4 linked regions of the Homo sapiens genome follow. The protein of the gene in region 1 purifies or fractionates together with the protein of each later gene. This does not show direct contact. Each region holds a gene or a part of one and is shown in the gene's direction. Other genes may lie near its edges. The genes, in order: ZNF480, MRPS9, SMARCAD1 and DDI2.

Region 1 (7,640 bases):
GTAGAATTCATACTGGAGAGAAACCTTACAAATGTAATGTCTGTGGCAAGGTTTTTAGTTACAATTCAAACTTTGCACGACATCAAAGAATTCATACCAGAGAGAAGCCGTATGAATGTAATGAATGTGGTAAAGTCTTCAGTAATAATTCTTACCTTGCACGACATCAAAGAATTCATGCTGAAGAGAAACCTTACAAATGTAATGAATGTGGTAAAGGCTTCAGTCATAAGTCATCTCTAGCAAATCATTGGAGAATTTATACTGGAGAGAAGCCTTACAAATGTGATGAATGTGGCAAGGCCTTCTATAGGATTGCGCTCCTTGTACGACATCAGAAAATTCATACTGGAGAGAAACCTTACAAATGTAATGAATGTGGAAAGGTCTTTATTCAAAATTCGCACCTAGCACAACATTGGAGAATTCATACAGGAGAGAAACCTTACAAATGTAATGAATGTGGAAAAGTATTTAATCAACTTTCAAATCTTGCACGACATCGAAGAATTCATACTGGAGAGAAGCCTTACAAATGTAATGAATGTGGTAAAGCATTTAGTGAGTATTCAGGCCTTTCAGCCCATCTTGTAATCCACACTGGAGAGAAGCCTTACAAATGTAGTGAATGTGGCAAGGCATTCAGACACAAGTTATCACTAACCAATCATCAGAGAATCCATACTGGAGAAAGACCTTACAAATGTAATGAATGTGGCAAGGTCTTCAATCGAATTGCACACCTTGCACGACATCGGAAAATTCATACTGGAGAGAAACCTTACAAATGTAATGAGTGTGGCAAGGCCTTTAGTCGCATTTCATACCTAGCACAACATTGGACAATTCATATGGGATAGAAACTACAAATGCAACAAATGCGTCAAAGAATTTAGTGTGCACTCAAGCCTTACTACCCATCTTTTATTCCATACTGCAAAGAAATTTTGCAAATGTAAAGAATATGACAAGGTCTTCAAACACAAGTTTTTCTAATAACTCATTAGAGAATTTATACTGGAGAGACTTCACAATTATAATAAATGTGTGGAAAAGTCTTCAAAAAAATTTCACACCTTGCAAAAGGAGATCTAAAAAACACAATCAGAAATGACAAAGGGGACATTACCACCAACCCCACAGAAATACGAAAAACCCTCAAAGATTACTATAAACACCTGTATGCACACAAACTAGAAAACCTAGAAAAAATTAATAAATTCCTTGAAAGATATAACCCCCCAAGATTGAACCAAGAAGAAATTGCATCCCTGAACAGACCAATAATGAGTTCCAAAATTTAATCACTAATTAAAAATCTATCAAACAAAACTCTGGACCAGACAGATTTATAGTTGAAGCCTACGAGATGTATAAAGAAAAGCTGTTACCAATCTTACTGAAACTGTTCAAAAACATGGATGCAGAGGGACTCCTCCCTATCTGATTCTATGAGGCCAGCATCATTCTAATACCAAAACCTGACAGGCACAATGAAAAAAGAAAACTTCAGGCTGGTACTCCTGACGAATATAGGTGCCAAAATCCTCAGCAAAATACTAGTAAACCAAATCCATCTGCACATCAAAAAGCTAATCCAACATTATCAAGCAGGCTTTAGTGTTGGGCTGCAAGGTTGGTTCAGTATACACAAATCAATAAATGTGATTTATCACATACACAGAACTAAAAACAAAAACCACATGACCATGATCATCTCTTTAGATGCAGAAAGGTTTTTAATAAAATTCAACATCCCTTCATTTTAAAAACCCTCAACAAATTACACATTGAGGGAACATACTTCAATAAGAACCATCTATGCTGGACTCACAGCCAAATTAATACTGAACAAGCAAAAGCTGGAAGCATTCCCCTTGAGAACTGGAAAATGACAGGGATGACCACTCTCACCACTCCGATTCAACATAGTACTGGAAGTCCTAAGCTTAGTGATCAGGCAAGATAAAGATATGAAAGGCATATATAAATAGGAAGAGGGGAAGTCAGTTTCTCTTGCAGAAGATATAATTCTGTATTTAGAAAACCTGTTGTCTCTGCCCAAAGGCTCCTAGATCTGATAAACAACTTCAAAAAAGTTTCAGGATACAAAATCTGTGTACAAAAATTAGTTGCATTTCTATACACCAGTAATGTCCAAGCTATGAACCAAATCAAGAATGGAATCCCATTCACAGTAGCCACAAAAAGTATAAAATACCTAGGAATACAGCCAACCAGGTAAGTGAAAGATTTCTACAATGAGAATTACAAAGCAGTGCACAAAGAAATCAGAAACAATAAAAATTGAAAAATATCTCATGCTCATGGATAGGAAGAATCAGTATTGTTAAAATACTGCCCAAAGCAATTTACAGAGCCAATGCTATTTCTATCAAACTACCAATGGCATTTTTCACAGAATCAGAAGAAAACATTCTGAAATTTATTTGGAACCAGAAAAGCCCAACCTAAATAGCAAAAGCAATCCTAAGCAAAAAGAGCAATGTTTGAGGTATCACACTACCCAACTTTAAACCATACTACAAGGCTACAGCAACTAAAACAGCATGGTACTGGTATAAAAAAAGACACATAGATCAATGGAATAGGTAAGAGAACCCAGAAATAAAGGCATATACCTACAACCATGTGATCCTCAACAAAACTGACAAGCAATGAAGTAAGAACTTCATTCAATAAGTGGTGCTGGCATAACTGGCTAGCCATATGCAGGATATTGAAACTGGACCCCTATCCTTCACGATATACAAAAATCAACTCAAGATGGATTAAAGACTTAAATATAAAACCTAAAAGTATTAAATTCCTAGAAGAAAACCCAGGAAATGCCATTCTGGACATAAGTGCTGGAAAAGACTTAATGATGAACACCCCAAAGCAATTGCAACAAAAACAAAAATTGACAAGTGGGACCTAATTAAACTAAATAACTTCTGCACAGCAAAAGAAGCTATTTGCAGACTACAGAATGGGAGAAAATGTTTACAAACTGCATCTGACAAAGATCTAATCCAGAATCTATAAAGAACTCAAACAAATCAACAATGAGAAAAACAACCCCATTAAAAACTGGGCAAAGGCCATGAATAGACCTTTCTCAAAAGAATACATACATGTGGCAATAAGCATATGAAAAAAATGGTTAATATCGCTAATCATTAAGGAAATGCAATCAAAGCCACAATGAGATACCATCTCAGACCTGTCTGAATGGGTATTATCAGAATGGGTATTATTAAAAAATCAAAACATAGATGCTAGTGAGGCTGCAGAGAAAAGCAAATACTTATACACTGCTGGTGGGAATGTAAATTAATTCAGCCATTGTGGAAAGCACTGCAGCGATTTCTCAAAGACATAAAAGAACATAGCATTCAACCCAGCATCCCATTACTGGGTGTATACCTAAAGGAATATAATCATTCCACCATAAAGACAAACACTTGTATGTTCATTGCAGCACTATTCTCAATAGCAAAGATGTGGAATCAACGTAAATGCCCATCAGCAGTAGACCAGATAAAGAAAATTTGGTACATATACACCATGGAATACTATGCAGCCATAAAAAAGAACAAGACTGTGTCCTTTACAGCAACATAGATGGAGCTGAGGCTCTTATCCTAAGTGAATTAATGCAGGAACAGAAAATGAAATATCCCATGTTCTCACTTATAAGTGGGAGCTAAACATTGATTACACATGGACTCAAAGAAGGGAACAGTAGACACGGGCTTATGGGTGGAGGTTGGGAAGAGGATGAAGATTGAATAACTGCCTGTTGGGTACTATGCTGATTACCTGGGGACAAAATTAACTGTACACCAAACTCCTGCAACATGCAGTTGACCCATGTACACATACTCCTTGAACCTAAAATAAAACATGAAAAAAAGCAAATTTCACACCTTGTAAAACATCAAGGAATTTATATTGCAAAGAAACCTTACAAATGTATGTAGCAAAGCATTTAGTGTGCCTTCAAGTCTTAATATTCATCAGGTAATCTGTAATGCAGAGAAACCTTACAGTTGTAATGGATATGGGGCTGGGCATAGTGGCTCACTCCTGTAATCCCAGCACATTGGGAGACCAAGGTAGGTGGATCACCTGAGGTCAGGAGCTCAAGACCAGCCTGGCCACCATGGTGAAAACCTGTCTCTACTAAAAATACAAAAATCAGTTGGGCATGGTGGCATGCACCTGTAATCCCAGCTACTCAGGAGGCTGAGGCAGGAGAATCACTTGAACCTGGGAGGCAGAGGCTGCAGTGAGTAGAGATGAAGCCACTGCACTCCAATCTGGGCGACAGAGTGAGACTCTGTCTCAAAAAACAAACAAAAAAGATGTGGCAAGGTCTTTACTCAGAATTCAAACCTTGCAAATCATCACAGAATCCATGCTGGAGAGCAACCTTACAAATGCAACATGCGTGGTAAGGTCTTTAATCAGAATTCACACCTTCCACAGCATCAGATAATTCATTCACGAGAGTCCTTATAGAGTATGGAAAACTCTTCATTATGAGTTCTTATATTAATCAGCGCCAGAGTGTCGTACTAGAGAGAAATCATATAAATGTATGTGACACAGGCTTTATCCAGCCCCACCAAGTCACTGGACGTCAACACATACATCTTTGAGGAAACCATAGGCTGGGCGCAGTGGCTCACACTTGTAATCCCAGCACTTTGGGAGGCCAAGGTGGGCGGATCACTTGAGGTCAGGAGTTCAAGACCAACCTGGCCAACATGGTGAAACCCCATCTCTACTAAAAACACAAAAATTAGCTGGGCATGGTGGAATGCACCTGCAATCCTAGCTACTGGGGAGGCTGAGGCAGGATAATCACTTGAACCCAGGAGGTGGAAGTTGCAGTGAGCTGAGATTGGGCCATTGCACTCCAGCCTGGGAAACAGAGTGGGACTCTGTCTCGGGAAAAAACAAAACAAAACCATAAAGATGGATTGTGGATTGTGGATGCAAAGGGTATTAATCAAGGACCATAACTATTGAACATGAGAGCACTGAGCATTTACAGAAGAAATAACTCAGTCTCTAGTACTTCCGTATTAATATATGACATAGCATGTTGCAGAAAAATTACAAGCCAAAAGATACCAAGCCTCATGATGCAAGGGTATGTGGAAATTGCGATTTTTATTCAGGTTATTAAAATATTTAATTCCTTGGGAGTTTTGGAAAGGCTACTTTACTCTTTATGACTTTCAGCCTAAACTTAAAACTCTCATTATGTGCTTTTCCTACAGGCCTTTCACTGTGGTCTCTGGGAAAGAATCAACAGCATGACAGGGCTGATTTTATTAGCTGGGGAGCATTTCTATCCAGTTTCCTGGAAGAAGGACATTGCCTTTTCAGGTTAAATATTGTTTGATTTAGACAGCATGGAGGTGAGCAGAGAATAACAAAACTATGTATCAGTCATCCTACTTACTGTGTTCAGCAAACCTTTTTCCTGACAGGCACAGTGCTATAAACCTGTACAGCAGGTTACACTACTGAATACTGTAGGCAATTGTAGTAAAATGGAAAGTATTTCTGTGTCTAAACATAGAAAAGTTACCATAAGAATACCATATGAGGCCGAGCGTGGTGGCTAATGCCTATAATCCCAGCACTTTTGGAGGCTGAGGTGGGCAGATCACCTGAGGTTGGGAGTTCAAGACCAGCCTGACCAACGTGGAGAAACCCTGTCTCTGCTAAAAGTACAAAATTAGCCAGGCATGGTGGTGCCTGCCTGTAATCCCAGCTACTCGGGAGGCTGAGGCAGGAGAATTGCTTGAACCTGGGAGGTGGAGGCTGTGGTGAGCCAAGATCACCCCACATTAAATACCATATAAAAGAAACAAAGTGCACCTATATAGGGCACTTACCATGAGTGGAGCTTCCAGAACTGGAAGTTACTCTGGGTGAGACAGTGAGGAGTAGTGAGTGAATGTAGAGGCCTAGGACACACTCCACACTACTGTAGGCTTTAGAAACACTGTACACAGCTGGGCACGGTGGCTCACGCCTGTAATCCCAACTCTTTGGGAGGCCGAGATGGCTGGATCACAAGGTCAGGAGTTTGAGACCAGCCTGACCAACATGGTGAAACCTTGTGAACACTAAGATTACAAAAAAATTAGCCGGGTGTGGCGGCGCATGCCTGTTATCTCAGATATTCAGGAGGCTGAGGTGAGAGAATCACTTGAATCCAGAAGGCGGAGGTTGCAGTGAGCCAAGATCATGACATTGCACTCCAGCCTGGGTGACCGAGCAAGACTCCATCTCAAAAAAAAGAAAAGAAAAAAAAAAACAAAACACTGTACACTTAGGCTATACTAAATTTATTTTTTAAAAATAAAGTAATTGTGCTGTGATGTTACCATGGCTGCAGTGTCACTAGGCATTAGGGATTTTTCAGCTCCATTGTAATCTTATGGTACCACCATTGTATATGTGGTCAGTAGTTGACCAAAACATCATTATGTGATGCATGACTACTTATTTTCACTGATGTCCTTTGCCATTTTAAAGTGATGGAGGTCTTTGTACCATAATATGTTAGGCTAAGTAATGGGTTTCTGAAACATGTTAAGAGACAAAATACTGTAAGACTGAAGTTAAATTATTACTGATTACATATCATATAATGGATTAATAATGAAGGAATATTTAATTTAGGAATAATGTAATTATTGAAATTGACTGGGCTGGGGGCAGTGGCTCACACCTGTAATCCCAGTACTTTGGGAGGCCGAGGCAGGCAGATTATGAGGTCAGGAGTTCAAGACCAGCCTGACCAACATGGTGAAACCCCATCTCTACTAAAAATACAAAAAAATTAGCTAGGTGTGTTGGTGGGTGCCTGTAATCCCAGCTACTCAGGAGGCTGAGGCAAGAGAATCACTTGAACCCAGGAGACAGAGGTTGCAGTGAGTCAAGATCACGCCACTGCACTCCAGCCTCAGTGACAGAGTGAGACTCCATCTCAAAAAAAAAAAAAAAAATGAGGAAAAGACAAACACTAAAAGTGGCATCTAGATTTTTTTTTTTAAGATGGGGTCTTTCTCTGTGGTCCAGGCTGGAGTACAGTGGCGTGAACACAATCCATTGTTGCTTCAGCCTCCCAGACTCCCAAGTAGCAGGGACCACAGCCGTGCACCACCATACCTGGCTAATATTTATTTATTTAGTAGAGACAGAGTGTTGCTATGTTGCCAGGCTGGTTTAGAACTCCTGGGCTCAAGGGAGCCTCCGACCTTGGTCTCCCAAAATGCTGGGATTGCAGGCATGAGCCACCATCCACCAGATTTTTTTTTTCTTTTCTTTTTAACAGAGAACTATCACAAGATACATCTGAACCTGCAAACTGCCAATTCCCAGATTTTTTTCATCTGAAACTCATCATAATGCTAACTTTTCTACAAACAGATATTGCCTAAGGCCAAGAGGGATAATAGTTTCACTATAATCAGCAGACCTCAGATATTTTCTGTGGATAGTACTGTATCCATGAAGCATATGATATGCCCACCTTTCAGAAAAAAAATAAGTTATTTATATTGCAGCCATTGCCTCTCAGACATTCAGTTTTTTGATATAATTGTCAC
Region 2 (8,405 bases), on another chromosome or scaffold:
ATCATTTAAGAAGGCTTGTGATCTTCTAATTCTGTTTATCTGAATGATTATTTCTCTTTACCAATGTAACATATCAAACTAGCTAATTGAAGCTATTTTTTAAAGCAGCTTCCAGATTTTTTAAAAAGCATCTCTAGAATTCCTCATTAATTGACTCTTCTTCCCCTTTTCATCAGATCCTACTGCAGTTTGAGTAGTCTTAGATGTAGCTTATGTTCTGAAGTGCAGACTGTGCCAAAATGTAAAAAATTTTGATTTAGATTTCCACCTTCTAGTTTGGGGATGGGCGTGCACAAAACAAAACCACCACCACAACAACCAGCCTTGGCACTTAAAACTGACCTAACTCACAAGGCAAAGAAAAGTGCAAGTAATTTCTTGTGGCTTGTGTATGTTTTTCTGATCATAAATATTAGAAAAATTCTGCTTTATCATTTTGGATTTTTTCCTATTCAGAGGAATGTGATTATATATATTGAGCAAGCAAAGAAACCTAGCATTTATGGGTTAAAATAAGAACTCATCAGGCTTTGCTTAGTTCTGGGTGCTAAATATGGCAGTTTTAATTTTTAAACTTTGTATCCTATGGAGAAATAGACATTAATCATAAATAGATACTACAGCTCTTCTAATCTAAATATACTCATCTCAGAACTCTCTCTGACTTGCTATATAAAGGCCTCTTCTTGATATGGTTATTATTTTCCCAGTACTTACTGTCATTATCCACGAGTAACAGAAGTTTGGTATGATTAGTTCCTCCTTTCCTAATCCTTCTCCTGTTTCCTGCATGTGTTACGGTATTTAAGGTCAAAAGGGCTAAAACTCTTTTGATACCAATGCTGATATAGGCAAAAGAGGACCCTCCTAATACAGTGTAAGCTTCTGGACACAATAATTATTTTAGGAAATGTGTGTTTATTTTATTTGTGTGTGCCTGTGTCAACAAGCAGTGCATTCTTAACTCCATTTAAGATGAATTAGTTCTGCTATTATCCTCACAGGACAGGGGATGGAAGAAGCTTTTATTTCCCTTAGGAAAAGCCAGAGAGAAACCCATACCCCAGGGTTTGATAACTTCAACATTGGGAACTATAGGAGGACTGTTCTTTAACCAATAACCTGTCTGTTGATTTGTATTCAGACATAACTCCTGATGATTTAACAGCAAGTCTCAATTCTGGCTTGATCTCATAATGAAATTACATCTTTAGATCTTATTCTTTGGTTTGAATTCAGCAGCTTTTTACTAAGGACATCTATGTCTCCAGTCTTGTTCTGGGCATTGTGAAGATATCAGAGATATTTAAGATATGATTCCTATTGTCAAGAAACTTCCTACATGGTTGGGAAGCCTAAGCCTAGTCTTGGTGGGAATGGGCACCTACAACTATTTTAAAGTAGTTGTAAGGATTTAGGGCAGTCACTTCAGGAACTTACAAATCAGCAGTGAGGTGACCATTGACTAATAGGAAGACTAACCAACCCAGAATCAGGGATCTTGATCGGAATTCTGTCATCACCTAACACACAGTGAAGTGGGTTAGCCACGTAAGTGAAGTTACAAGGGAGGCTTCTGGACAGCCATTTGTTTGGGAGCTTAAACACTTTCCTGGCTTAATTTTTAAAATTTTATGATTCTTTAACAAATGCTTATATAAATAAAAAGAGACTTCAATTAAAATCTAGAAAAATAGATTTCATAATGTAATTACTGGATATATAACTGAGTCATGGAGCCAGATGGTCGAGGTAAATGCAATAGTGGAATTAGATTTTCAGTCTGTACATTTTTTTTTTCTTTTTTTTTTTTTTTTGAGATGGAGTTTCGCTCTTGTTGCCCAGGCTGGAGTACAGTGGTGCAATCTTGGCTCACCACAACCTCCGCCTCCTGGGTTCAAGCAATTCTCCTGCCTCAGCCTCCTGAGTAGCTGGGATTACAGGCATGCACCACCATGCCTGGCTAGTTTTGTATTTTTAGTAGAGACGGCGTTTCTCCATGTTGGTCAGACTGGTCTCAAACTCCCGACCTCAGGTGATCTGCCCGCCTCGGCCTCCCAAAGTGCTGGGATTACAGGCATGAGCCACTGCGCCCAGCCTAAATTTTCTTTTATATTTACTTTTTTTTTTTAAGAGACAAGGTCTCTTTATGTCACCCAGGCTGGACTCAAACTTCTGGACCCAGACTGGACTCAAGCTGCTGGGCTCAAGCAGTCCTCCCACCTCAGCCTCCTGAGTAGCTTGTACTTTAGGTGCTCAGCTTAAATTTTCTTTAGTTATCATAGTATATTAATAGATACTACTTATAATACTGTTTTTATAACTTATGGCTACTTTTCATTTGGTTTCTTGGAAGCATTTGTTCAAAAAGACAGTATAGATTTATGAGTTTTTTGTTGTTGTAGGAGTTATGTCATCCCTACATCGTATTGTTATAAATTCCGATTTGCTATGGCTTTTGAAAGTCATCTTTTGCCCATCTGCTTGTGATTATTTTACTAGTGTGGTATGAAGAATAGCACTTGAATGTCCTGTCCATACCTGTCTCTCAGCTTAACTGTGTTATATAAACTTGATTTTGGGTCTAGAAGCTACAGCATCAAAGAAAGCAAACGCAATATAAGTGAGCTTTTCTGCATAAAAGTGTAGCAAGATATTAAGGCAAAATAGCAAAATCAAAGTGCTTGACAGAGGTAATGGTGAACATCTTACCTGGCGTGAAAATGATATTCAACAAATACTTGTTCAGTTGAGCAGGAGAAAGTCCAGGGCCGTGTTTTGTCTGTGGTGCCTGCCCCAGGATCTTGTAGGCCCTGACCGACCCTGAAAGAGCAGGCCTGACAGGGGTTGTGTAGAATGTCACCTGGCCCCAGGAAGGTAGCAGGACCCTATGATTTAGAGAACTTTAAGAATATTGGGAATAGGTGTTTGGTGTCAGGGAAGTGCAAGGTCGAAAATAGTTTTAGAAACTTTAAAAACTAACCATATCAAGATGAGCATTATACATTATACAGATACACTTATAGTAGACTTTATTTAGTGAATCCAAATGACATGTGATAATTGTTTGGAAAGGCCTATTGATTTTATATCTGATCATTCAATCCAGAGACATTAAATTCAGTTGATTAATGGAGTTCCCCAACTGTAAGACTTCTTTACGAGATTATTTTCAAGCTTTGAAAAGATCTTCTGAGATAAAGGGGATCAGCAAACAGTAAGAGTGTGTTGCTATACCCAAGCAAAAGAAATAAATCTTAATCTCTCAGCAAATCATTCAAAATGTCAGAAATGTTAGTGTTTCTATATCTTGGTAAAATGGATTGATTGAGAAGTATGAAAAGTATAACAGTGGCATGCAGAATATTGTTTTTATGAATATTCAGAATTTCAGTTGTTTACATAATTATGTATCTTTATAGTAAACGTAACCACATTTACTTGTGCTGTGCTTTAGAGAACAGCTGATGTTCCCTTTCCACTTTGTTGACCGGCTGGGAAAGCACGACGTGACCTGCACAGTCTCAGGGGGCGGGAGGTCAGCGCAGGCTGGAGCAATACGACTGGCAATGGCAAAAGCCTTGTGCAGCTTTGTCACCGAGGACGAGGTCGAGTGGATGAGACAAGGTATGAGTCTAGGTGGGACGGGCATGGTGGCCCAATACTGGCTATACATGTTCATCTGCTTCTTGTCCTAGTGCCTGAAGTTCGTAAGAAAATATATAGTTACATATGTAATATTTCACTTCGCTGTCTTCTTTCTTGCTACAGAACCATAACAGTATTTCTCAGATTTGATTTCTACAAGGTGAGCTTGAATTAGAAAAAGGGGAGAACTCCCCACACTGATTATTTGAGCCCTGCTAAAATGTTCAGTTCCAAGGTCAGGGAAAAGTTAATTTTGGCCTTAATGCATAACCTTTTATCCAGCTTAACAAAGTGCTTAGCTTAGTTATATTTAAGAGACAAATTGCTTGTTTTTGTTTTATCATAGAAATGTGTGGGTTTTTTGTTTTTGTTTTTTAAACAGTCTCTCTCTGTCAGCCAGGCTGGAGTGCAGTGGTATTATCATAGCTAGCTGCAGCCTTAAACTTCTGGGCTCGAGCAATCCTCCTGCCTCGGCCTCCCAGGTAGTTAGGACTATGACATACACTCCCAAACCTGGATAATTTTTGTATATTTTGTAGAGACTGCATTTTGCTATGTTGCCCAGGCTGTTCTCGAACTCCTGGCCTCAAACAATCCTGCCTTGGCCTCCCAAAGCACTGACATTACGTAGCATGAGCTACCACACCTGGCCTGTCATAGAAATTTGTAATAATTATTTGGTTAGTGATAAAGTTCTTTGGGTATTTTGTTTTTGTAAGTTATTGGAGGTTTCCATTTTTTCCCATTGTGGTGTTTGAATTTTCTTTTACCCTACTCTGTGTAACCCTGTTACCTGGGCATGAATACAAGAGTCCCTGTGTAATGTGAAAAAGGATGGGCAGTTGATTCTTACCTTAGACTACTGCTTTAGAAGTTGGAATAAATTGGGGAAGTTTGAGCTGAAGACCATCTTCGCACTGTTGATGAGAAGAGGAAAGCACCATGTGTGCTATTGGCGGCTGCATGGTCGTGGGCAAGTCACTTAGCACCTAAGTCTATAAGCTCCTCCTCTGGGCAAGTAGGTTGGTCTCTGTGCACCAGACCTTCTAGTACAAGCCGCTGAGGTTCAATAAAAACACTACCTATGGCTTAGGCTACTTAATTGCTTAAGGCTCTTAAAAATCCATTTGCTTATAAGCAATTTGTCATCATATGGGATTCATATCTAGTCATTGAAGTAATTTGCTAGAATCTTAACAATTTGATGAGTTTGAGCTACTGTGCATATCTGAAAGTAATAAAGCATTCTTACTTACAGTTGAAGCTAGAACTTAGGTCTTTTCTGTATTTTGTCAAATACTGCTGTTTTATTCCATGCATGTCCTTTAAGTACAAGCAAGTGTAAATGTTATGGGTATATCATAAACAAGGTTTTCCTTTGCTCTATGTACATTAAATGGTCCTTAATAAAATACCCAAGCCTTGTATACAGTAGGAGGAGTGCTAACGTTGGAAGAGTGAAAAAGACAAGGAAAAAGTATGGTCCATTTACATATTTATAAAAGCAATGTAAGAGCTTTCCCATCAGTGGTATTCTTGGAATCTATGGTCTTTACTAACTTACTATAGCTCCAGCCACTGCTGGGGCTCTTCCTTATGGGCCATAGCTAAGAGTAACCCCAGCAGTTGCCTAGAAACATAATCACTCCTGATGATTGGGAGAATGAAAGTTTCCCGTTTAAACTGACTTTATTCTTCTAGAAGAAACTGCCTGTGCTGAGAATACAACTCTAAAACTTATTTTTTAGATTCTAAAACAAAAAAACAGGGAATATTATTATGGCATAAATTAAAATAATGAAAGTTTCCTTTTTTAAATGTTTGACAAGTCATATTTGTGTGTATATGCATATTCATGTAAACTGTTAATAGATGGTATCTAAGTACTTTCTCATACTTCACCTTTACAGTAAGTTTTTCTTCTCTGCCTCTTGTCTCCATTAAAACTCTGTCCTCTGCAATAGTAAGTGTGCAGGTTAAGTTCCCTTACAGTGAATAGTGACCGCCCACACAAGAGGAGCTTTATCTCACTTAGGTTGAGCAAGCTTAAAAACCAAAAGGGAGCCATGATTCTTATAATTTAAGGGAAGCAGGTTTAAATAATGTAACTTGTGTTTGTCTCAGAGGTTGGAAAAATATCCTGAAAGAGTGGAAGCAAACTGCCATCATGAGGTTGATACTGGGCTGGTAAATTATTACTGGTCTGGTTGCTTTCCTCTAGTTTTTTTTCTCAGACAACAGTACCTATAAATTTATGAACCTGCTTTTCTTCTGGGCAGCATGCATATTAATGGTTCCTAAAGGCTTCTCTTTTTATGCTGCAGCTGGACTACTTACTACTGATCCACGTGTGAGGGAACGGAAGAAGCCAGGCCAAGAGGGAGCCCGCAGAAAGTTTACGTGGAAGAAACGCTAAGGGTTTGCTCCCAGGAAAGGAGAGGAAGAGCTATATATATGTGCCGACATGTGGCAGACACACAGTAAATAATGGCTGACCAGCATGAGGGCAGTACTGTCAGAAATTTCTTTGAGCTGTGAGATGGATTTATTTTTAAATGCTACTTTGTAAAGGTGACCTTTAAAAAATAAAAGGAAAATAAAGAATGTTAGTTTCATTCTGCCGCTTTATTTTTTTAACTTTTTCAGAATATAGTTTTAAGAAGCATAATTCATAGAATCTGGCATATTAGACCTGAAAGGAATATTCAGCAAAATATAGTCAAGTTACCTCATTTTGCAGACAAGAAGGCTTAGCCCCCCAGATTAAGCAACCAACCAGAGCCATACTGTTGGTACTTTCAATGCTAGAGCTAGACTCATTTCCCCTGATTCTGTTGCTTCCCCACTTGGCAATTGTCACCACGTATTTTTCAAAATGAGAAGTGAGAGTGCTTGCTCAGAAGAATGAAGTAACTTGAGTCGGTCAGGAGCTCAGCAGAGCCAGGGAGCTGAGCTGCCAGGTGTGGGAGGTGCTGGTATACACAACAGCCAAGTGAAAGGCACAGTCAAGCCTGTCTGTGCTCACTCGCTGCAGGAATACGAGCAAGGCTGCGGCAAAGAAGGCACCCCTGCCCCCTATTTTGGATCAGTTTTGTTTTGGGGGTATTTAAAAATCTTTTTATTGTGTATTTTTAAGGTATGCATCAGGATGTTTTGATATACATTTACAGAGTGAAGTGATTACTGCAGTCAAGCAAATCAGCGTAGCTCTCATATAGTTTCCCAGGTGTGGGTGTGTGGAAAGAGCATCTAAGGTCTCTTCTCATTTCCAGCATACAATACAGTATGATTCACTGTTGTCCTCATGTTGTACGTTAGGTCTCTAGACTTACTCATCCTATGTAACTGCAGCTTCGTACCTTTTGACCTGCATCTCACGTTCCTCCACCCCCTACCCCCAGTGATTACATTCTACTCTGTGCTTCTATACATTTGACTTTTAAGACCCCACAGCTAAGTGAGATCTTGCACTACTTATCTTTCTGTTCCTGGCTTACTTCATAGTATCCTCTAGGTTCATCCACGTTGTGGCAAATGGCAGGATCTCCTTTTTCAAGGTTGAATAATATTCCATTGTGTTTATATATGCCACAGTTTCTTTATTGAAACAATTGTGGATTCCATTTTGGATCAGCACAGATATGGAGAAAAGTGGCTTCAAGCTTCCCTTCCCCAGGAAGTCTCAGCTGAGGAGCCTGAGGGAGGACTTGCATGAAAGGAACAGATCCCTCTGAATGAAGGCACCCAGCCAGGAGTGCACATAGCTCTGGAAGAGCACGGGCTGCGGGGAGGTGGGCTGAGTCCTTGACTGTGGCCCCCAGGACCTGTCATGCACTGGCTGTGCACAAGTCAGGTGTGGGGAGTGTAGCTTGCCCCCGTGAGGCCCACCAGGCAGTCTTTATGATTGACCATGGTTTGGCATGAAAGATCACACATAGGTGTTTGGCCAGGAGTGAGACTCTTCAGTCATAGCTAAGCGTTCAATTGAGTTTTGCTCTAGGATTTCTAAAGTACCTTAAAATGAAGAAACTTTGGCATTTTAACTCTAATGCAATTGTGCAGTAGGTTTTTGAGGGAGGAAAGGGGCAGTTGGTAACAGGGGTACTTTAAAACCCATTTTAAGCCAGGTGTGGTGGCTCACGCCTGTAATCCCAGCACTTTGGGAGGCTGAGGCAGGTGGATCACTTGAGGCCAGGAGTTTGAGACCAGCCTGGCCAACATGGTGAAACCCCATCTCTACCAAAAAATACAAAAATTAGCCGGGTGTGGTGGCATGCGCCAATAGTGCCAGCTACTCGGGAGGCTGAGGTGGGAGAATCGCTGGAACCCAGGAGGCAGAGGCTGCAGTAAGTCGAGATTGTGCCACTGCACTCCAGCCTGGGTAACAGTCAGATCCTGTCTCAAAAAAAAAAAAAAAAAATCCATTTCAATGCAGTTATTTTAAGTAAAAATATTGCTTCAAGAATTAGACCCTCAATGCTCAATTATCCTTTATATAAAGAGTTGTATGCCACTGATTTCTTCATAAGTGTCTTTTTAAAATAATCTTGAATAAGTTCTGAGACATGTATATACACATCAAATCCTTTATGAGGTAAAATAAAATAACATGGTGATGAACAAGTGAGAGTGAGTACCCAGTACCCTGCGGTACCCAGTGCCCTTTTCATTTCAGATGAAACTGTAGAAAATACTTTCTGGGGTTTTTTCTGTGTGGCGGTCATTCTCTAGTGAAATTGTCTGTGGCAGGTTTTGGT
Region 3 (8,513 bases), on another chromosome or scaffold:
TGGACCGTTTTCGCTTTGAGAAAAGGAATAAGATTGAGGAAGCGCCCGAAGCAACCCCTCAACCTTCCCAGCCTGGCCCTTCTTCACCAATTTCTCTTAGTGCTGAAGAGGAGAATGCTGAAGGGGAAGTTAGCAGGGCAAACACTCCTGATTCAGATATAACTGAAAAAACAGGTGAGTTACAATGTTAAAATTGATGTAACATCAAGGACAGTTTTTAAAAGATGAAAGGCAGAAGGGATTCTCATTTTTATTCTTGATGTCATATATATTGATGCATTGTCCTGCGGTGTGCCCTTTTAAATACAGCTTTGGGACTGCCATAAGCACCATGTACCCTCAACTGAGCATCCATCCATTGTCGCCTCACTTTTATATGAGTTCTTCGAATATGGCCCCATGGTGGAAGTTGAAATTAGAATTTAGGGCATCCATAGGTCAGAACGGTTGCTATTGGAAGAGCGATGTCAGTGATTCAGTCCTATGATAAACTTTGAGGCTATTTGGGCAGACATTTTCATTCATTCCAGTATTCCCTCAAAATATTGATCATCTACTGTGAGCTAGACATTGAGCAAGGTGCCTAAAGACAACCTCTGTACACAAGGGAAGATCAGATCACATCAAGTTCTTGCATCCACCTGACTTCCTGGATGTCCTCAGAATGCAAATGAGTAATTGGTATTCTTCATGGTGAATGAACATTTTTAACCTCATCAGCAGATTGTCAGAGACAAAAGTATTTGAGGATAAGCCAAAAATTAAGATTTCCACTCGAATCTATGTTCATTGAACAGTTAACTATTAGAGGAATATATTTGAGCTCTTGTTGTATTATAGGAATAGTGATAAGTGCTTCACCTTCTGTCATTTAATTTGCACAATAATCCTACAAGGTAGATATTACTGACATAGAGGTTAATGTGAAATGAGATTCAGAGAGGTTATTAGGAACTTGGTAGAGCCTGAACTCAAGTCCTGGCAGTATGATTCCTGAGCATAAACTAATTAGTTAGTTTCTTAGGAAAGGTGAAAGGAATGTTGGAAGTTATATTTTAATATTTATTTCAGTAATATCTTTTTTTATGCAAAACTCTGTTTCGTAAACAGCTTTTAACTTAATGTAGCCTGAAAGATTGGTAACACACATGTTTATCCTTGGTATCTTTTTGTTTGCCACCCTTCTACTTAAATGTAATAATGATGGCAGATCCTCTGCAAGTTATCATTAGAATAACATTTTTAAATACTTTGGTGTAATTGGAAATTGGCAGAATGATTTGGTAGATTGGATTAGGAGTCAGATTTACAAAGGCTTTGTCTAAGTAGTTTTGAATTTAAATGCTATAGGGAACAACTGAAGGATTTTAAGCACCAGGATTTTAATCCCTGTGTTCACTCTTTGAATAGATATTTGACATCCAGGTATTTTAATGCTTTTCCAATGAATATATTTGTCTGTTTCCTCTGTAGTTAGATAGTTCAGGAAAGCCAAGGTGTAGACATGGGATTTCGAGTCCATAGAAGCTTCTGCTTCTTCATTTTTGTTAAATGTGGGACATTAGACAAGTCATTTGAAATCTGTGATCCACACTTTTTTCATCTCTGAAAGTGAAAGCAGTTTGTAAACTGGATTTCAGTGGAATGTTTTAGTTATTTATCAGTATTGGTCATGTGAAATCTTTAATTTCCTTTAGTGATCAGAAGATATTTTTCTGTTTTTATTTCTTTCTAATGATAACACTCATTTTCTCTTTATTGGGACTTTTTTCCATACATAAATTCTGCTTAAAAACTGAGATTGCTTTAGGAATTACATGATCAGCCTTGATGGCTTCGGGAAATAAGAAAACTAAGTTTGTTCTAGGAATGTTGAGAATTAATCCTTGTAGGAATGGAGCACTTTGCTTTAATAAAAGATTGTTTTAAATGATACTGTGAATTTTGGAGAATCTTGAAAACTGAGAAGTTTAGATTTTACATTGTAAGTATTAGATATCCATTGAAGAACTTACAGAGTGAATGGAAAATGGTGAAAGAAAGTTTTAAAAGTCAGTTTAGCAGTAGTGACTAGTACACACTGATTGAGGGTAGGGATTGAAGGGAAAGAAAACATTTAGGCAACTCCTGTAATTGAGCTTAATGATAGCGGTAGAAATGGAGAAGAAAGAGATATGAGAGGTTTCAAAGTAATGAAGGGCAGGGTTTAGATCCCTGATGGGAATGAGATAAGATGAATGGTAAGATTTTTATGCGCGGTGGCTGAAGCCTGTAATCCCAGCACTTTGGGATGCAAAGGTGGGCAAATCACCTGAGATCACAAGACCAGCCTGGCCAACATAGTGAAACCCCGTCTCTACTAAAAATACAAAAATTAGCCAGGCATGGTGGAGCGTGCCTGTAATCCCTGCTGCTCAGGAGGCTGAGGCACAAGAATTGCTTGAACCTGGGAGGCAGAGGTTGCAGTGAGCCTAGATCACACCACTGCACTCCAGCCTGGGGGACAGAGACTGTATCTCAAAAAAAAAAAAAAAAAAAAAGGTAAATGTCTTTAAGAATTCAAATAAGAATCGAAGGTCTGGCTGGGCACAGTGGATCACCCCTGTAATCCCAGCACTTTGGGAGGCTGAGGCGGGCTGATCAGCTGAGGTTGGAAGTTCAAGACCAGCCTGACCAACATGGAGAAACCCCGTTTCTACTAAAAATATAAAATTAGCTGGGCATGGTGGTACATGCCTGTAATCCCAGCTACTCGGGAGGCTGAAGCAGGAGAATCACTTGAACCCTGGAGGTGGAGGTTGCAGTGAGCCGAGATTGTGCCATTGCACTCCAGCCTGGGCAACAAGAGCAAAACTCCATGTCAAAATAAATAAATAAATAAGAATAAAAATCAAAGGTCCTGCCCCCAAGTGCTAATTTAGCCTGGGGTCTAGGGATTGCTGAGGAAGTGGGGATTCAGAATTGAGTGTTGGATCTCTGGAGAGGACAAGATACTGAAGTTAGATTTTAAGGTCAGGACTGGAGATGAAAATTGGTGAATTATAAATAGGATGTGACTATTGACCTTACTTCTTTATCATGTGGTAACTTTTCATACTCCCATTGTGGGATAATGCTGCGTTAGTTTATTTACAGTAAAGTGTCAGGTCAAACTAAGTCAGCTTACAGGACAGAAATTGTATGTAGTCAAAATTACCTGTAATCACTCTTTTTGACTAATCCTGTTATTTTATCTAGTGAGTTGACTTCATTTCCTATGACCCTCCTTCAGTTACTGTGCCACCACCACATTGTTTCTTGAATCTTTCAAGCAAGGTCCCATCTTTGCTTCTTCCAATTTGCTTTTTTGCCTGGAAGACTCTTCCTGCTGATATTTGCATATGACTCAGATGCTTTGTTTCATTAAATCTCAGTAAAATGTCACCTTTTTAAGAAGACCTTCCTTGATCACCCTGTGAAATAGCCACCCACCCCAGCCCACCCTACCCCAGCTTTACTGTTATTTTTCTTCATAGTATTTATCACTAGCTAACCTTTCATTATGTAGTTGTGTATCACTAGCTAACATTACATTATATAGTTGTGACTCCCTTGTTAGAACATATGATTCATGAGAGCAGGACCTTATCTGTTGTGTTCACCTATTTATCTCCATTGTTCAGGGCAACGACTGGCTTGTCGTAGGCCCTCAATAAGTGCATTGAAGTAAATATTATTGCATGATGAGTGGGCATTATTAGTACTTTATACATTTTTTAAAATTTATTTATTATTTATTTGTTTTTAGACAATCTCACTGTGTGGCCCAGGCTAGAGTGCAGTGGCAGAATCTTGGCTCACTGCAACCTCTACCTCCTGGGTTCAAGTGATTCTCATACCTCAGCCTCCCGAGGAGCTGCGACTACAGGCTCATGCCACCATGCCCGGCTAATTTTTGTATTTTCTGTAGAGACGGCATTTCGCTATGTTGACCAGGCTAGTGTCAAACTCCTGACGTCAAGTGATCCACGTGCCTTGGCCTCTGAAAGTGCTAGGATTATAGGCATGAGCCACCACGCCCAGCCCTATACATATTTATTTATTATTATTTTTTTGAGATGGAGTCTTGCTCTGTTACCTAGGCTGGAGTGCAGTGGCACAATCTCGGCTCACTGCAACCTCTGCCTCCTGGGTTCAAGCAATTCTCCTGCCTCAGCCTCCCAAGTAGCTGAGACTACAGGTGCACACCACCACAGCCGGCTAATTTTTGTATTTTTAGTAGAGACAGGGTTTCACCATGTTAGCCAGGCTAGTCTCAAACTCCTGACTTCAGGCTATCTGCCTGCCTTGGCCTCCCAAAGTGCTGGGATTACAGACATGAGCCACCACACCTTTATTTTAAAATAGGACCTTAAAATAGTCCCTTTAGCCATCAGGTGTTCTTTGGCCATGGTTGCTTGAAGCTTCTTTTGGTACAGGACATCCTCCCTAATGCCCCTCTAAATCCCAGCCAGCCTTTGGATTTGAGGGCATACACTTAACCTCTGCCCCCTGATTTATTTTACTCTTCTCGGTGCCCAAAGTTGTCAATGATTGTTATTTACACATTATTTCTCCTTTTTTTCTTTGACTTTTGGGAGTACAGTGAGTTTGGAGGGATTGAAATAATGGCAGGTGAAAGGGAAGAGAGATCCTACTATATTTTATGAATAAAGAATAAAAATGAGTGAAGCCTGATCCTCCAAGAGCACCAGGAGAAAATGGTATGTAAATATATAGTTAAAATAGTATGGTGTGATAAAACCATATAATAGGGCAAAATACTAAGCAAAGTAGAATCACTATCTGTAATTCACAAATGATTGAATTATCCATTCTTCAGGGGAGGATCACAAAAAGTCACAGAGATATGACCTTTGGAGTGGACTCTAAACAATGAAATCATTGTTTACTGGGTGAACAAATGATGAGAGAGTTGAAAATATATGTTGCCTCCAAGAGTCTAATATGTGTGTGGAGGGTTGGGGGCAGATTATAGAACAGGAGGTTTTAGACAATATAGATGAAACTGAAAAGATAGAAGTGTAAACCATTGGGTTGTGAGGGGCCTTTATATCCTGTGTCAGGGACGGTAGATCTTATTTGGTACACATCATAGAGCATTTCATTATGGAAATGCTATTAGTGAAGCTGTTGTATTCATTGAAGCCTCAATGTAGGGAAATGACTGTAGAGATGACAGAGGAGGCAACTGAGGGGAGTTGTAAATGATACGCATTTGATGATATTAGGTGATCAGTTGAATGTGGAGGATTTACAGATAACTCAAATGTTCCTTGCTTGGACAGCTGGAGGATTGACACCATGGACTGAATTAAGAGGTGAGTTTAGGAGAAAGATACTAAAAATTATGTTGTGTTTGCATTACCCATCCTATTTTAGTACCAAGGTAGTAGATGGTTGAATATTAGAGCTCAGAGAGTGGTCTAAACCCTAGAACTTGGGACTCATCAATGTCCTAAGCAGGGTGTACAATAAAAAACATCATTTGACAATGGGCAGGAAAACCAATGAAAAATTTGAAGGATGACTAGAATAGTCATAGAAAATGATAGTGTCCTGGATACCTAAATACCTAGTTTGGTATTTAGTTGTCTAGTAACAAATCCTGTAGAGAAGTCAAGTTGAGTGGGGACTGATCAGTGACCAGTTTCCTTGGAATTAAAAGTAACTACTAACCTTTAACAGTTTCAGTAGAATGGTGATGAGATAGAGATTATTCATTCAGGAAAGGAAAGAGAGAAATAGGTAACCTGATTGGGAAGTAATGTCAAGAAAATATGTTTCAGGATTATTGAAAATTGAGCGTTCTTTTGTTTTTTTTTTTTTTTTTGAGACAGTTTCACTCTGTCACCCAGGCTGGAGTGCAGTGGCGCAATCTCAACTCACTGCAATCTCTGCTCTCGGGTTCATGCCATTCTTCTGCTTCAGCCTCCTGAGTAGCTGGGACTACAGGTGCCCGCCACCACGCCGGGCTAATTTTTTTTTTTTGTATTTTTAGTAGAGACCCGGTTTCACCGTATTAGCCAGGATGGTCTCAATCTCCTGACTTGAGATCTGCCCGCCTCGGCCTCCTAAAGTGCTGGGATTACAGGCATGAGCCACCGCACCTGGCCAAGCGTTTGTTAACCAAGGACAAGAAGCTAGTGGAGAGGGAAGGACTGAGGGAGGGAGGTATCTGAAGAGAGGCATCAAGTGATGAGAACTGAAGAACAGTTGGACTGTTTAACTGTGCAAAAGAATAAAGACATATTTTCCCTGGGGGGGATAATTGAAGGAGATAAAAATAGATGGGTTCATAGATTATTTTGGCATTGGCGGAATGGAGGAAAGTTTTAGTATATGTTTGATGAATTTTTTTTTTTTTGCTGAAATAGATTTAGTCCTCTAGAGTGGTTGCCTTTTCAAGGTGGTTGTCATATTGAAAGTAGCACTTGTTGATAAGTGAGAGACATTTTTAAAACTATACCAGTCGTCAGAAAGATTTCCTGAGAGTATTGCTCTGCCACATACAGATTGTATGATCTTGAGTAAAAAGTCAACTGTTTGGGTCTTACAGTCTTCTCCTGGCTTTGCTTAGTTTTCTGTATTCCTTGCCCACATTAAAATGGTTATTATCCTTTGAATGATGATACTGAATGTATCATTTTAGCTTCATAATTCCGTGACCATTGCGCAATACTCAGTCTTTTTGTAGGTGTCTGTGGCCAAAATGTGAGCCATCGTTAAACCTGTAGATAGTCATTGTGGTTTCTTAATGTCTGTTAATGTTAATTGAAAAGCAATACTTAGTTAAAGGGTTAGTGCTGAATTGTTGTAACAGAAAGTACAATAAGTACTCAAAAGTAAGTAGGAATCTTAAGTGCATTTTAAATGTGCATGTATTTGGCTGGGCACAGTGGCTCATGCCTGTAGAGTCGCAGCACTTTGGGAGGCCGAGGCAGGAGGATTGCTTGAGACCAGGAGTTCAAGACCAGCTTGGGCAATGTAGTGAGACCCTGTCTCTACAAAAAATGAAAAAATTAGTCAGGTGTGGTGGTGTGCACCTGTAGTCCTAGCCACTTGGGAGGTTGAGACAGAAGAATTGATTGAGCCCAGGAGTTTGAGGTTATGGTAAGCTGTGATCACTACACTACATTCCAGCCTGGGCAACAGAGTGAGATTCTGTCCCAAAAAGGGGGGTGGGGGGGAGGAGGGGGATAGAAATATTATTTTAGTCATTGTCACTTCACCCTACACACAAATTTCACTAGTTTGTATCAGACTACATCTTGGTTTTGATGTCTGCTTTTTCATACCTGTCTAAAATATTGCAGACCTTTATTATCTTTAATAAGCTAATAGGCAAAAGTATGTTATTGTTGCTTTTTCTTTATTTTTTAGTTTAAGTATGTTTTCATAAATTTACTAGCCATTTGGATTTTTTGTGTTTCTTTATGCTTTTCTGTTTTTCTAATACATGTCTCTCCGATAAATTATTTGTAAGTATATCTTAAATTCCACGTGTCTTAGTCTGTTAGAACTGCTGTAACTACCATGAACCGGGTAGCTTATAAGCAATAGAAATCTACTCTTGGCAATTCTGGAGGCTGGGAAGTCCAAAATCAAGGTGCTGCAAGATTAGGTATCTCAGGGCCCTATTCCTAGACCACAATCTTTTAACCCCATGTGGCTGAATGAGTGAGGGGTCTCTTGGGCCTCTTTTATAAGGGCACTAATCCCATTCATGAGTGCTCTGCCCCCATCACCTAATACCCCTTCCTCCCTCCAGCAAATGTCACCTCCTAATACCATTACCATAATGGTTAAGATTTCAACATACCGTTTTGGGGAGTGGGGCACAAACAGACCATAGCACCCCCTTTGTTGTTTGCCATAGAAAAATTTTAGATTTTTATGTGGTCACCTTGTTCATCCTTTCCTCTAAGTCTTCTGCATTCCGCATTACCACACTATAAATATACTCATTCATATTTTCCTCTAGTATGTCTGTTAATTTTAAAAATTATGATAAAATACACATAAGAAAATTTACCATCTCAACCATTTTTAAGTGTACAGTTCAGTACATTCAGTTCAATACATATACATTGTCATGCAACTATTCTCCAGCACTCTTTTCATCTTGTGAAACTGAAACTCTTTATGCATTGAACAACTACTCCTCATTTCTGATTCCCCCAGCCCCCGGCAACTACCGTTTACGTTGTCTTTTTATGAATTTGACTATTCTAAGTATCTCATTAAAGTGGAATCATCACTTAGCATAACATCCCCAGGATCCATCCATGTTGTAGCATATATCAGAATTTCCTTCCTTTTTAAGACTGAATAATATTTCACTGTGTGTATATACACATTTTGTTTATCCATTCATCCATCAATGGGCACTTGGATTGCCTCCACATCTTGGCTGTTTGAATTGTATTGCAGTAAACATGAATGTGTAAATATTCTCTTTGAAACCCTGCTTT
Region 4 (8,513 bases), on another chromosome or scaffold:
GACGGACTCGCAGGCGTGTGGCGGCGGCCGTGCTTGCTAGTGAGGGCGGGAGGGAGTGACTCACTGAGCGTGTGTGAGGGAGGGAGCGAGCGAGCGAACGAGCAGCCGGCGCCGTCCTCCCGCAGCACCAGCCAGGCCACGCCGCCGCCTCTTCCCCTGCGCCCCGCGCCCAGGCCGGGCCGAGCCGAGCCGAGCCGGGTCGGGCCCGGGCCATGCTGCTCACCGTGTACTGTGTGCGGAGGGACCTCTCCGAGGTGACCTTTTCCCTCCAGGTCGACGCCGACTTCGAGCTGCACAACTTCCGCGCGCTGTGCGAGCTCGAGTCTGGCATCCCCGCAGCCGAGAGCCAGGTACGCCGGGCAGCGAGCCGGGCCTGCCCCGGAGCTAAGCCCTCCCCGCCTCGGGGCCTCACTCCCTCCCTTTGCTACTGGTGAAGAATTGGGGGCTGGGGGGAGCAAGGATAGCCATTCTCAGGTCACCCCCGCATCCGGAAAGGAGCTGGGGAGCTGGCATCAGTAGCTGCCCTCACACACTCCGAGCATGGGGTGGGGTACGAGGAGAGGGAGCGGAGAACCTGACCGCAGACGCACCCACTGCAGCGTGAGGGGCGCGTGGACTGTTGAGCAGCGCTAACCCTCCCCACCTTTGGCTCTTTGGCCCTTCCCTGTTTCTAATCCCGAGTGTAGGATATCGTTGTGGACCTCAGAAGCAGCCCTGGGTTTGCTAGGATTCATACATCCTGCAAACCAGAAATACCAGTTTGGATCACTGTGGTAGATAGATGTTCCTCTGCTTTTTTTTTTTTTTTTTTCTGGAGAGGGTTTCTGCTTAAATATACGCAGTTTACCTTTAAATGCACAGATTTGCACTTCCGGTGAAAGAAAAAGTTTAAGACTTGCACTACCTCATTTTGGGGTCTTTGGAAATGCTCTTTACCCACCACATGCGTTTCTGGTTAAATTCTTTTGAAAAACAGTACCTATTGGTTCAACTCAAGCTGTTTGTTTGTTTCGGTTCTACCCTGGTAGTAAGCCAGAAGGCCCTTTTTCTTTCAGGTCACAGTTCAGAGTTTGGGTCAGTTCAAAGCTCAATGCTTTAAAAGGATATTTGCTTGGAAACGGCCTAGTATCAGTGCTGTTTGGTGGTTTCATTTCCCTACTCAGCTTGCTGGAAAGAAGTTCAGCCTCTCATATTTTAACTAAGCAAAGTAATTCTCAAAATGCTTTGGGGCTGCCCCTAGTCTTTATCAAACAGAATCGGTGACACTAACGCTGTAAACTTTACACTAAAACACTTAGATCATGACTTAATAAATTTAGCCTGGAGGAAATAGTCTAAACATTAAGAAAATTATAGAGGTCTCCCAAGTCTCCATCAAGTAAATCTTGATTTTCTACTGCAGTTATGAAATAGTTTACAAAACGATTGCCCAACTGCAGCTTGTTCTGCTGTCTTATGGTAAACACGTGTCAATACTTTGTTCAGAAGTATGATTCCTTTACACAATGTGAACTTTAGAACCTTGGCATAAAGCTGTTCAGAAAGAATTTAAAAAGTTAATCCACAAAAGCTCAGGAACCAGTTCTGTCAGTGAATGCCTCATGTGGAGAACTAGGAAAGGACTGTTTAAATAGAGAAAATAAACTCTTCAATTTTTTTTCTTTTTTTGTTTTTGTTTTTGAGACGGAGTCTTGCTCTGTCGCCCATGCTGGAGTGCAGTGGTGCGTTCTCGACTCACTGCAACCCCAGTCTCCCGGGTTCAAGCGATTCTCCTGCCTCAGCCTCCTGAGTAACTGGGACTACGGGCGCGCGCCACCACGCCTGGCTAATTTTTGTAATTTTTTTTTAGTAGAGACGGGGTTTCACCATGTTGACCAGGCTGATTTCAAACTCCTGACCTCTAGTGATCTGCCCGCCTCGGCCTCCCAAAATGCTGCGATTACAGGTGTGAGCCACCGTTCCCGGACAACTCTTCAATTTTTGATAGTGGCTTTTTCTTTTCTTTTCTTTTCTTTTTTTTTTTTCGAGACGGAGTCTCTGTCGCCTAGGCTGGAGTGCAGTGGCGCGATCTCGGCTTACTGCAAGCTCCACCTCCCGGGTTCGTGCCATTCTCCTGCCTCAGCCTCCCGAGTAGCTGGGACTACAGGCGCCCACCACCGCGCCCGACTCATTTTTTGTATTTTTAGTAGAGAAGGGGTTTCACCATGTTAGCCAGGATGGTCTCGATCTCCTGACCTCGTGGTCTGCCCGCCTCGGCCTTCCAAAGTGCTGTGAGCCACCGCACCCGGCCCGATAGTGGCTTTTTCAATTGTTTTTTCCTCTAGCTGTTATATTACCCTGGTTATGATCACCGGCTGGTAGGGAAAATAAGAAATTAAAATGTAAATTGATTTTGTTGTTAGGGCTTGGGAAAAGACAGAGGTTGAGGTTGTTTCCATTCCTGCACTTTTTGTGATGGCTGAAACAAGAAATTTAAGTCAAAGGGATACCTGACACCCCCTTTAATTGACTTAAATTTCTTGTTACAGCCATCATAAAAGACGATTTATTGTGTGGTCAGCCAGACATTGCCCTCTGCCAGTTGGTAAAGTTAGGAATACCTTAGTAATTGAACATAGGCTAACTCCAAATTATTTCTTGTTCATTATGTCAATGTTTCGGCATTTACTTCCTTCCCAAGCCAAATTAGCATATAGAAACTTGGGCTCCAACTGGTGTTAAGCCTGTATTAGATAGCCATAAACAGCTCCTGTTTTTCCAGTCTGTTCTGTTGGCTCCATTGTAACCTGACAACACAGTATCTATTTTAAGGTGTCTGGTGGTCGGTTGTCTTTCACTTGCTTGCTTGCCCATCAGGCAGGAACAGGATCCACCCTAGACACTTGAGTCATTTCCTTTCATCAAATCATAATAGTAAACATCACTATAGTTTTTACCCATAAATATATCATGTTTACTTACTTGAGTGTCCCCCCCCATTACCTCCCAGGGTTCTCTCATATTACTCATCTTCCCTTCCTTTCCTAGACTGTTTAACTCCTCCTCTTGTTTACATTCTCCATTCCCATTCCTTCACCTCTCATTTCTGATTCCATTTCTTCAAGGAAATATATATATTTTTATGTTCTGGCTATTTTTTCCTGCCACTATGTGTCCACACCACTGGTGTCCAAACTTTCATTCATGTATCCCTATCAGTAAAATGTTTCAGATTATGCTTCTGTTATGTATATAATACATTATATACATGAACTGATACGTTGTATACATTATATATGGCCACATGTGCATATAATACACATAACGTGCATTATATGCATATATAATATGTTATCTGTAAAGTAACATTGTACACACACAAAATGGAGCTTAAGGAAGGACGAACTAAAATAAATGGAAATGAAAATTCTAATATTTTCAGTTTCTTCCTCCACCGTTAAAGAATTGTCTTGCATGGCTGCCCTACATTGGTGATCAATGGTTTAGAATTCAGTCTTTCACCTGAGTGTCAATTGCACATAAGCATATAGTTGGAAAAGGTGTTAATTTTTAACAGCTCTAGTCTGATGATAGTAGTTACAATGCAGTGATAACAAATTTAGAACAAGCCATCTCTGCTTGTACATGTGATTAAAGCTGGGCATGTTCTGTCTCTTAATAGAAGTGTGGGCTTGGAAGCCAGTCATGGCTCTGTTTGATGCTTTGATGCAGACTTGCCTGGGTGAACTTCAAACAGTTATCAGAACTTAGCTTCACTTTAAATTAATGTCTTCATATTTTTGAGACATGATAATTTACCTCTGTAGGTGGCATATGGAAAAAGTAGGCACAACATACAAGGACCCTCAAATGAAAGGCAAATAATAGCAGTAATTGTATGATCTTGGAAATGCACACAGCATGATTTGTGGTTTGTAAACCACTATTTTATCTTCTGTGTGTTTGTTTTTTTGAGACAGGGTCTTGCTCTGTCACCTAGGCAGTAGTGCGCTCACAGGTCACTGTAGCCTCAACCTCCTGGGCTCAAGTGATCCTTCCACCTCAGCCTCCTAAGTAGCTGGGACTACAGGTGTATGCTACGACATATGACTAATTTTTTTGTTTTCTTTGGAGATGGGGGTTTCACTGTGTTGGCCACGCTGGTCTCAAACTCCTGACCTCGGATGATCTGCCTGCCTTGGCCTCCCAGAGTGCTGGGATTACAGGCGTGAGCCACCGCATCCGGCCCCAAATTGATAATTTTAAAGGCTACATAATATACCATCATATAGATGTGTTGTAATTTAGCAATTTCCCTTTTGTTGAGCATAATATTGGGGAAAATTGGAAGCAGTTGTAAGTAACATGCCATGAACATCCATATACTTAAGACTGTAGCCTCCATTTCTGTTTTCTCAGGATGAATTCTTAGATATGCAGTTGCCAGATCAAAAGCATAAAGTCTTTGAAAGGTTTTTAGTAAATTTAGATTATACAAGTCAAATTGGCTATTACATGGGGTAGTATATGTAGATAACTTGGTAGATATTGGGTATTTGATTAATGGTAATACTATTATGAAGCCATTCAGATGTAATTCCAAATGTTTTGTGGCCGGTTTATGGTCCTTATTTTATCTTTATTCTTTATATTTTAGAGATGGGATCTCGCTCTCGCCCAGGCTGGAATGCAGTGTTGCAATCACAGCTCACTGTATCCTCAACATGTTGGGGTCAAGGGATCCTCCCAAGTAGCTGCGACTTTTTTTTTTTTTTTTTGAGACGAGGTCTTGCCAGTGCTAGGCTTGAACTCCTAACCTCAAGCAGTTCTCCTGCCTCTGCCTCCCAGAGTGTTGGGATTACATGTGTGAGCCACTGCACCTGGCCTACTAGTTTATGTTCTGTAATGCTAGAAATTTATTGTTAAGCTTTTTGTTAATAGAAGGCTCTCATTCAGAGACCAGAAAACACCTGACCTCATGCTTAAAAGTTCTGAAGTTTTATTAATTAGTCTATTGTTAAATGTTGATTAAGATTATAATTCAGTCTCTGGGGTGCCTCCTCTGGAGTAAGTACCAGCAGTTGTGCCAGTTTTGCTGATTAAGACTCATAGCTGTATACATTTTCTTGTTGTATGTTCTTATAACTGGCAAAACTTGAATTTTGGGCTTTGTAGCTGTTGAGTTGGGTAACATGAATGGTGGAAGGATCAAGAATGCCGGCAGCGGATCCCCTTTTGTTTTTATTGGTAGAGATTTGAAGCCATGTCTAATAGATACTGAATGTTTGGTTGGAAGATCACATGGATTTATTTTGGGACTTTTGCTGCAAAATAATTGTCTTTCTTGGACTCTTAAGCCTATTTAAACAAAAAGAAATCAGTTCTTTGTGGCAATTACAATTTTAGCTAAGCTTTAGTTGATCTCATTTATGTCCTTAGATTAAAATGGAGCACAGCTGCTGCTTCGTCAGTGTGAGGAACGTGTGCGCCTCACCCAGGTTCTTCAGTCTAGTGTTTCCAGGAAATTGGCGCTGAAGCAACATTTCATATTTCATAGACATGCTCAATGTGGTGGTTATCTAGATTTTACATTTTTATTGTTAGATCATGCTGCCTTCCTTTAAAAAATGCTATTGTCTGCTGAGGAAATATTGTGGCAACTAAGCAGTGATGGAGTGAAGTATGGCATCTGTGAAGTGGGAGTCAGAGCGGGCAGTTGGTGGTGTTTCTTCATGTCCAGGGCATGGGGATGCGTTGAGCAGTGGACAGTATTTTGATCCTCTTAGTGGATAGAGTCTCTTAGTGGCAATGGATGGCTTAGTAGTACTTGTTAAAATCACCCAGCTAATTCACCAGGCCACTTTAGGGTTATGTTCGGGAAAGCTGTATATGATACTCCTGGAGTAATGGGCTTTGAAATTAGACAGTTCCAATTGCAGTTTTCTTCTTCTTTTTTTTTTTTTTTTTTTTTTAAGAGACAAGATCTTATTCTGTTGCCCAGGCTGGAGTGCAGTGGTACAATCATAACTCACTGCAACCTCGAACTCCTGGGCTCAGGTGATCCTCCAGCTTCAGTCTCCCAAATAGTTGAGACTACAGGCATATGCTACCATGCCTGGCTTATTATTATTATTATTATTATTATTTTAGAGATGGGGTCTTGCTGTATTGCCCAGGCTGGCTTTGCATTCCTGGCCTCAAATGATCTTCCTACCTCATCCTCCCAAAGTTTTGGAATTAAGGCGTGAGCCATGGCACCCAGCCTGCATAGGATCATTTTGATTCTCCTGAGTTTGCTTCCTCCTTGTAAATAAATAAATTTTCTCTTATAAATAGTTAGTGGCCGGGCGCAGTGACTCACGTCTGTAATCCCAGCACTTTAGGAGGCCAAGGCGGGCAGATCACAAGGTTAGGAGATCGAGACCATCCTGGCTAACATGGTGAAACCCCGTCTCTACAAAAAATACAAAAAAAAAATTAGCCGCTTGTGGGGGCAGGTGCCTGTAGTCCCAGCTACTCAGGAGGCTGAAGCAGGAGAACCTGGGAGGCGGAGCTTACAGTGAGCCGAGATCCCGCCACTGCACCCCAGCCTGGGCGAGAGCGAGACTCCGTCTCAAAATAAATAAATAAATAAATACCGTTAAAATGTGCCTCTGCTCCCAGGAGACTGTTCATGTATCTCTAAATATACTGATAGTTGAATTTCTGAAACTGGAAAATTAAAGAGTAGGTTGTTGACAGTGGCTTCACAGTGTTGATGCTATGCTGTAAGAGCCTGCCTACCTGCCATTTCTCTTGACATACCTCTTTTTTCTTGTTGCACACCTCAACCTGTGACGCTCATCACTTCTGGTTTATGTGTTTTTTCCAAGCAGTCTCACAAGTTATAATATGACTCTCAGTTGTTTTGCTGAAATTCTGTGTTGATGGTGATGTACTTTTACTGTGAAATTTGTGTTTAAATGAGGGTGTGTGAATGGGATGATGGGAGTGACAGTTGCAGTCTGTTGAAATGTGGTTCTTTTTTTGTTTGTTTTTGTTTTTTAAGAGACAGGGTCTTACTCTGTTGCCCCAGGCTGGAGTGCAGTGGTGCAACCGCAGCTCACTACAGCCTGGACCTCCTGGGCTCAAGCAATCCTCCTGCCTCAGACTCCTAAGTAGCTGAGACTACAGTCACATGCTACCATGGCTGGCTATTTAAAATTTTTTTTTTTTAGATATGCGGTCTCACTATGTTGCCCAGGCTGGTCTCAAACTCCAGGGCTTAACCCATTTGTGCTTAGCCTTCCAATGGAACGCTAAGCTTGTGGGAGTTATATCCTACTACTCAAGGTCATTGCCAAGGTATGATTTTTTCACAAAAGAAAATTTGCAACCTCTGGCCTAAATGGGTTAAGTGATGCTCACACCTCAGCCTCCCCAAGTGCTAGGATTATAGGCATGAGCCATCATACCAGATCTGAAATGTGTTTTAACTCAGCGAGTTGAGCATTAAGGACTTAATAGTATTTTTTTTCAAGTCATGCATAAAACTTGTATAATTGGGCCTACAAATTTGCTCATATTCAGAAGAATTTGATTTTGGTAGGAACTCATTTTCCTGTTCTGTTCCTCATGTCTATAAATTCTGAGAGCAGATATGGCATAATCACTTTTTTTCCAGTTTAAATGCTGTGTTTTCAGTTTTTATTTCAGGTAACCTTACTATGAAAGCTGTAAGGAAACATAGAATGATAATGTTAGCAGAGAGAACTGGAAGGGACAGCTGTAATGATGATCTAGCCCACCTGCTTGCTTGACACATGGGAAGGGTGAGGTCTGGACCTGCTGAGTGTCATGCCCCTCGCAGGGAGTTACTGGCAAGGATAGAACTCATGTTCCTCAGTTCGCATGTGGCCTGGTGAAAAATCATTAGGAGGAAAACCTTTCAAAGCCTGAGTTTGTTCTGAATGCCTTTCTGGAGTATGTAATAATGCAGGGCAGATTTTATGTTTTTTCATGATAAAATTATAGTGTACCTTTGTTCTTTCTATCTGCAACACATTATTTCATCTATTTGTGCTGTCAGGTTTTTTTCAGTTTGATTACACATCATAAAATATTTTTATTAGTAGTACATTCCTAATTCTTTTTTCCACTTGTATTTAGTTGTTATTTTCTTAGTTTCACTTTATTTTCCAGTCTCCCCCCTCCCACCACCCCACCAAGATGGAATCTTGCTTGCCCAGGCTAGGGTGCAGTGGTGCGATCTCAGCCCTGCAACCTTTGCCTCCCGGGTTTAAGCAATTCTCCTGCCACAGCCTCTGGAGTAGCTGGGATTACAGGCACGTGCCACGACACTGGGCTAATTTTTGTATTTTTAGTAGAGACGGAGTTTCACCATGTTGGCCAGGCTGGTCTCGAACCCCTGACCTCGTGATCCACCCGCCTTGGCCTCCCAAAGTGCTGGAATTACAGGCGTGAGCCAGCGTGCCCGGCCCAGAGTGATAAAACTTTGGGGGTGGTAGAAGAGAAGGAAGATTGCAGTGCAGGAA

The links.
Region 2: the proteins of ZNF480 (region 1) and MRPS9 purify together in Homo sapiens (co-immunoprecipitation; one large-scale study listed by IntAct). This does not show direct contact.
Region 3: the proteins of ZNF480 (region 1) and SMARCAD1 purify together in Homo sapiens (co-immunoprecipitation; one large-scale study listed by IntAct). This does not show direct contact.
Region 4: the proteins of ZNF480 (region 1) and DDI2 purify together in Homo sapiens (co-immunoprecipitation; one large-scale study listed by IntAct). This does not show direct contact.

Annotation. Positions count from the first base shown.
Region 1 is NC_000019.10:52,321,999-52,329,638, forward strand, and holds the end of ZNF480 (zinc finger protein 480), read left to right. Parts: coding exon 1-860; 3' UTR 861-3,924; downstream 3,925-7,640.
Region 2 is NC_000002.12:105,093,698-105,102,102, forward strand, and holds the end of MRPS9 (small ribosomal subunit protein uS9m), read left to right. Parts: intron 1-3,354; exon of another isoform or gene 3,355-3,457; coding exon 3,458-3,627; exon of another isoform or gene 3,628-3,701; intron 3,702-4,501; exon of another isoform or gene 4,502-4,565; intron 4,566-5,550; exon of another isoform or gene 5,551-5,603; intron 5,604-5,972; coding exon 5,973-6,064; 3' UTR 6,065-6,263; downstream 6,264-8,405.
Region 3 is NC_000004.12:94,208,411-94,216,923, forward strand, and holds part of SMARCAD1 (SWI/SNF-related matrix-associated actin-dependent regulator of chromatin subfamily A containing DEAD/H box 1), read left to right. Parts: coding exon 1-174; intron 175-4,624; exon of another isoform or gene 4,625-4,742; intron 4,743-5,327; exon of another isoform or gene 5,328-5,360; intron 5,361-8,513. UniProt on the Homo sapiens protein: DNA helicase that possesses intrinsic ATP-dependent nucleosome-remodeling activity and is both required for DNA repair and heterochromatin organization.
Region 4 is NC_000001.11:15,617,459-15,625,971, forward strand, and holds part of DDI2 (protein DDI1 homolog 2), read left to right. Parts: 5' UTR 1-212; coding exon 213-350; intron 351-8,513. UniProt on the Homo sapiens protein: Aspartic protease that mediates the cleavage of NFE2L1/NRF1 at 'Leu-104', thereby promoting release of NFE2L1/NRF1 from the endoplasmic reticulum membrane.